Linked DNA regions of Homo sapiens. The protein of the gene in region 1 purifies or fractionates together with the protein of each later gene. This does not show direct contact. Each region holds a gene or a part of one and is shown on either strand. Other genes may lie near its edges. The genes, in order: F10 and PIP4P2.

Region 1 (3,828 bases):
AATGCATCTGGCCGGAGGATGCCAACAGGAGAACCCAAGTGCTGGGCGTGTGCGACTCCCTGCAAAATTCTTTCCAGTGTGCTGTGTGTTGGAAAACTTTTCCTAATGAAACATTGAAGAAAAAAAAGTTTTCAGGCAGAAGGAATGGCGCACGCAAACAACTGGAGGCACAGGAGAGCGTCTGGAATAGCACAGCTCCCAGAGAGGCCACGCCGAGATGTTAGGAAGCTTCCTTTTGTATAACGGCCAATTAGGGCACCAAGGCCAAGAGAATGGCTGAAACATGTTGGAGGAAGGCAGGGGTGTGGGGGAGCAGGAGAGGAGAGGAGGGGGGAATGGATGGCAAGGGGCTTCTCTGTGGCCACACGTGTCTGGGGTCAGATGGGCACAGCTTAGCTGTTTACTTGCTGTGCTCCTGCGCAGTCTGAGGAGGCTCCGGTGAATCTGCCAGCCGCAGGGGCCTCCACCCCGCCGTGCCTCAGCTCTGTCCATGTGTGCAGTCACCACCCTTCCAAGTTCTGAGTTCATCCATTATTTGGAACTGAACTTTTTTTTTTTTTTGAGATGGAGTTTCTCTCTTGTCTCCCAGGCTGGAGTGCAATGGCATGATCTTGGCTCATTGCAACCTCCACCTCCTGGGTTCAGGCGATTCTCCTGCCTCAGCCTCCCGAGTAGCTGGGATTACAGGCGTGCGCCACCACGCCCAGCTAAGTTTTTGTATTTTTTTTTTTATAGAGACAGGGTTTCACCATGTTGGCCAGGCTGGTCTTGAACTCCTGACCTCAGGTGATCCACCCACCTTGGCTTCCCAAAGTGCTGGGATTACAGGCGTGAGCCACCTTGCCCAGCCTGAACTTTTTGCACTACAAAGTAGATTATGTAATTTTATTTTCACACATCACATTTGCCTTTTGATTTTTTTTTTTTTTTTTTTTTTGAGACAGAGTCTCATTCTGTTGCCCAGGCTGGAGCGCAGTGGCGCAATCTCGGCTCAGTGCTCAGTGCAAGCTCCGCCTTCCAGGTTCACGCCATTCTCTTGCCTCAGCCTCCTGAGCAGCTGGGACTACAGGCGTGCACCACCATGCCCAGCTAATTTTTTTTTTTTTTTGTATTTTTACTAGAGACGGGGTTTCACTGTGTTGGCCAGGATGGTCTCGATCTCCTGACCTCATGATCCGCCCGCCTTGGCCTCCCAAAATGCTGGGATTACAGGCATGAGCTACTGCACCCGGCCCACACTTGGTTTTAAATGGATTTGTGATTGTTTCTAGAATTAAAAAATATTCGTGTGTATGTCAAGAAATGACTTCAGTTAAAATATTTTTTAACCAGCTTAAGCTTGAATGTCATTGCCAGTAGCAAGGTCAGCCACAGTGTCTTTCACTTGCTGAGATGTTTCAGGCACATAATTGAAGCAGCGCTTGAAGGATGCATATGGAACCCGGTCTTTTCGTGATCACTCATCTTTGGAAGTAAATTGTTTTCGGTAAGAAGGATATGAAAGGAAGAGTGACAGAACACTCGGGAGTAACCTGTGTCTGGAGGGGACAGTCATGGTAGCCGGGGGCAGAACACGGTCTGGGGGCTGAGCCGCACCTGAAGCCGGAAGGTGAGCTGGGTCACCAGGCTCTTGAAAAGGCGGGCCTGGAACTCTGCCCTTCGAATATGCCCCCGGGTGAGGCCAACGCTGCGGGTCGGGCCAGCTATGAGTGGGAGTGGGGTTGCTGTGCAAGGTGCAGCTGTGACGCCTAGGCCCCGCCTTCGAGGGCCTCATGTGTGCTGGCCGTGTGGAAGTGCCGGCAGCCAGGCAAGCCCAGCGTAGGCAATGCCCACGGGGTCAGGACAGGGAGGCTCGTCCCCACCCTGCCCAGTCCCCTGCCTGTCCTGTGCTCACTGCCCTCTGGCCGCCTGTTGTCCACATTCATCAAGGAAAAGAAAAACTACGTTCAATGAACACTGGTCCTGGTAAAAGGAGCTCAGAGCCTGAGCGTCCCCTGACTCCTATCCCAGCCCCGCACCTTAGCTCCAGTTCCTCGGGCCAGCTCTGCCCTTTGCCTGCCCTGGTGCTTTGAGCCCTTGCACTGGATCCCCCCACAGTCCCAATGCAGACTGAGGGCCTGCGGTGGGCCAGGCATCATGCAAAGTGCTCCAGGGATCACCCAAGCAGTCAGGCAATAGTGTTGGTCCCATTTGTCAGATGGGGAAGCTGAGGTTAAACAGCAGATCTGGCTTACAGAAATAATGGGTCTGTTTCCAAACCTCATGGTCTTCATGTTTGAACCACCTGGGCCCGGAGCCCAGGGCTCAGTCCTGTCCTCTTGGTGTCACTGTTACCTGCCAGGCCCGCCCAGAACATGCCTGTGTCCCCACCCCCTGGCACGGGCTTGTCCTCCCTGGCCCGGCCCAGCGGCAGCGGGTGGCTGTGGCCCAACGTGCCTCCTACCTGTGGGAATGCAGGCCTTGCCGTTGTCAGCCAGGGTGTACCCGCGGGCGCAGGAGCACACCACAGAGTTCTGTTCCTCGTGGCAGAACTGGTCACAGTCCCCGTTGTCCAGGCTGCAGAGCTTCCGTGTGACTGCAAAGGAGAGGCACGTTGGCTCTGGGGACAGCTGGAGAAATGGAGGCTGGGCTGGCCCAAGGGTGCCAGCTACATCCACTTGCCTGTCAGCCACAAAGCGGCCATTGGGTTGAGCAAAGGGCCAGAGCCAGGCGACAGGTACACTTGCCTTGAAGGGCAACCTCACGGGTCACGGGGAGCTCATGGTGCAGTGCCCGGTGTAGCCAGAAGCCAGGCTCCAGGTACCTGCCCCTCACACCTCCGGGATGGCCGGTACCCCCTGCCCCAGCAGCACTCACATTACGGTCACTCCACATCCCTCTGTGTGGCTTTTGATGAAAAAGTAATCACAGTGCAAAGATCAACATGCCTGAAATTTTAGAAAATGTGCATAATAGCCCTGGGAGCCTGAACAGGGTTATGCCTCATAAGTTACCAAATGGTGTTCCAGGGAGGCGACTGCGGACTTGGAATGGAATGATGCGTAATTGATATTCTCATCAGGGAAAACTCAAAAGTAATCCAATCTAAGAACACAGTCTAAAGATGATCAATTAGGCCGGCGCTGTGCCTCACGCCTGTAATCCCAGCACTTTGGGAGGTCGAAGCGGGCGGATCACCAGGTCAGGAGATCGAGACCATCCTGGCTAACACGGTGAAACCCCGTCTCCACTAAAAAATTAAAAAAAAAAAAAATTAGCCGGGACTGGTGGCCGGGGCCTATAGTCCCAGCTACTTGGGAGGCTGAGGCAGGAGAATGGCGTGAACCTGGCAGGCGGAGCTTGCGGTGAGCTGAGATCGTGCCACTGCACTCTAGCCTGGGCCACAGAGCGAGACTCCATCTCAAAAAAAAAAAAAAAAAAGATGATCAATTAAGTACTTTAAAAGAAATGCAAATCTTTTTCCTTAGGGAAATTGATCTAACAGTAGCCTAACTTTTTATTTAAAACTTAATCACCACATTAGAGAAAGCACTTAGTGATTTTTCCACGTAGAACTAATTAAATGTATCAAATTTTTATAATTGGCCAATCACAAATATTCACAAATATTGACACCTGCATCCATACACATAAATAAGAGGTGATTTAGAATCACTGCACAGGGTCACAAGGAGCAGGAATAACAGGGCAATGCACTTGGCCCCAAGGAAAACAGAGAGTCCACTCCTGTTTACACATGAATGGATCACACGCTTCATCAATGTTCTACAGTCTCTCTCGGAGGAGCAGAGAAGTGACTGTGTCTCTCTCATCATGCCCCCAAACCGA
Region 2 (2,886 bases), on another chromosome or scaffold:
AACTAGTCCCTTATTATTAGCAATGTCCTATTGTGTCCCATGATAGTAAGAAGTTACATGGATTAAATTCCTTGTAGAGATAATATAGTTTAGTGTGCTTTTTTGTTTACTTCATAACATTTATAGTTACTACAAGTAGCAGTATGGTCTATCAGTTGCAGTCAACAGATACACCTACTCTTATAAGGACTTTGTGTATTCGGTCTGGGGGTATATTTCATAACAATCACATGTAAGCTGATACAAGTTCCCTAAGCAGATATTTTTTAAAGTTTCTAATATTTTGTTTTTATATTGCTTTTTATTTTAGGTTGGCACCCCAGATTTTGCAAGGCGATTTCGAGCAACCTATGTTTCTTGGGCAATTGCTTATCTCCTAGGATTGATCTGCCTTATCCGAGCTTGTTATTGGGGAGCCATAAGAGTCAGTTATCCAGAACACAGTTTTGCATAAGCTTGTTTATGATTCAGTAATGCAGGTGAGAGTGTCTAGCAGTTCTTGGTAAGCTACTCTGGACATCTTTAAATTATTTATCCTAATGGATTCCATTCTGGTTTATGTATAATCGTTTCAAGACTTTGGGAGTCTTTTATGAACAAATGCTCATTGCACTATATTATATGCAAATTGTTTTGCTGCTAGGTTTTCAAAATTTGAATAATAAAGCCTTTTCATGTTCTTTTACATCTCTTATAGATATTTTTGGATTTGTTACCAAACATTACATTTACTCTCACCCTTTTATTATTTTTAAATAAGTTATTTCATTACTTGCTGATACATGAGTATTCCTAAGTGTTTATAAATATTTCTATAATAGTTTCACATTTATATTTACATTTTAATTAAACAGTATCAAAATTGCTTGCTTAAAACCTAAGCAATATGCATTTTGCTTGAACTGCTTACTGTAACTTTAACCTAAGATTATAGTGACCTTATTCAGGAAAAAAAAAAAAATTTAGTGTAACTTCAAAGACTTGACATTCTTGTCAGAGGAAAAAAAATTTCTAGATACTGTTTGCTTGTTTTTTGTTGTTTGTAGAAAGATAAAATATTTTGGTAGTAATTTAAAATACAAGAACGAATATTTATTTGTCCACAGTTGGAGATGTTGGATAAATGTCTTTTCTCAAAGATCACAGGACTTTTGTCTTTCATTTTTGCCTTTTTATTTACCATTTATAAAAGATCTGGTCTGGATTATGGAATTTAATGTTTATCAGCTCTATGTATTCCTTTATAGAGGCTTGAGGAAGTATTTCACATAACATGTTTTATAATACTTAACCATTTATCCAAAGATATATTTACATTGGGTTGTGCCCCTTTCCCTTAGATCATGGTAAATTTTTCTTATTGAGGTAATTATGTACTACTTATATTTGAAGGAAGCTTATGACATTTTACAGTAGCTAAAATGTTGAGATTAGAGGTACTTTTACTATTCTTCTCAAAGGTAACTGATCAGATAATTACCCAAATTATTCAAGAAAATAGATCAGAAATAAAGAACAACATAATTTTCTAAGAATTCATTGAAATTTATGGAATCAGCTCTCGCACTGCCCATCTTTGCAGTTTTGAAAAAGAAATTGCTTAATCACAAATGTTCTACAGTCTTTAAATGTAGTAGAATTAGACAGTGAGATCATCTGAGTAAATTGATTGGTGATTCCAGAGATAAGACTAATATTTTAAATTATTTATGATACTGATTAGTATAAAAACGTACTCATCACAGAATTTGAAGCAAAATACATGTACACTTCAAAGAGTAAATGACAAATGTATAAATGCTGTAGCTCAGGATTATATGTACCTTTAAAAATACACTAATAAAGATTATTGTTCAAAAATTACCTTGTTTTATTCCATTAAAAATAATGTCACTTCCAGAGTTGCCTTGAAATCTTGCTGTAAAGTTTTCATGTTTAGGAATGTACCTGTTTCTTTATATAATATTCATTTATGTTTTTTGTACTATTTTCAAATGGTTTTATTTTTAAAATATAGTTTTTAAATCCATTTGTAATACACTTGATGTTAGGTATAAAATAATCTTACTTCTTTTCCTAATGGTTAACTAGTTGTAACAGCATTGTATACTGAATAATCCATTCTTTCCCTCATTGATTGGAAAGCTCACATTAAATTATATGCTATGTCATATTCCTTCTGGAATAATAACTTTATGAGAGCAAGAACCCTGGTAGTCTTGTTCACAGCTTTATCCCCACTTAGAACAGTTCTTAGTGTACATGTGCTCAATTTACGTGAATGAATATGCATGAATGAATAAATGGTTGAATGAATTGCTATTTTAAATTCTTATATACACTTGAATATGTACTTTATATTTTGTACCAGAATGTATAGGTAAGTATTTGTATAACCTTGGGTTAAGAAAAAAACGTTCTAAGTAGAACTTAAAAGAAGAAATTATATAGGAAAGGATTGATACAATGAAACAACAACAACAAAATCCCCAAAATACTTCTGTATGATAAAAACCCTTAAGCAAAGCCAAAAGACAAACTGGTGAAGCTATTTTCAAAATAGGAGAAAGACTGTAATATCAGAAGGGACTAACGGTATGAAAAAGCAATTCACAAAATGACTACAATAGGTCATAAACTGTTTTTCGATTTTTCTTTTTTTTTAGACAGGGTCTCACTCTGTCACTTAGTCTGGAGTGCAGTGGTGTGATCTCGGCTCACTGCAGCTTCCACTCCCCTGGCTCAAGCCATCCTCCCACCTCAGCCTTCCAAGTAGCTGGGATCACAGCATGCGCCACTATGCTGGGCTTTTTTTTTTTTTTTTTTTTTTGGATTTTTTGTAGAGATGGGGTTTCGCTATGTTGCCTAGGCTGGTCTGGAACTCCT

What was found.
Region 2: the proteins of F10 (region 1) and PIP4P2 purify together in Homo sapiens (affinity purification with mass spectrometry; one large-scale study listed by BioGRID and IntAct). This does not show direct contact.

The regions. Positions count from the first base shown.
Region 1 is NC_000013.11:113,139,666-113,143,493, reverse strand, and holds part of F10 (coagulation factor X isoform 1 preproprotein), read right to left. Parts: intron 2,576-3,828; coding exon 2,444-2,575; intron 1-2,443. UniProt on the Homo sapiens protein: Factor Xa is a vitamin K-dependent glycoprotein that converts prothrombin to thrombin in the presence of factor Va, calcium and phospholipid during blood clotting.
Region 2 is NC_000008.11:90,993,245-90,996,130, reverse strand, and holds the end of PIP4P2 (type 2 phosphatidylinositol 4,5-bisphosphate 4-phosphatase), read left to right. Parts: intron 1-310; coding exon 311-454; 3' UTR 455-2,329; downstream 2,330-2,886. UniProt on the Homo sapiens protein: Catalyzes the hydrolysis of phosphatidylinositol-4,5-bisphosphate (PtdIns-4,5-P2) to phosphatidylinositol-4-phosphate (PtdIns-4-P).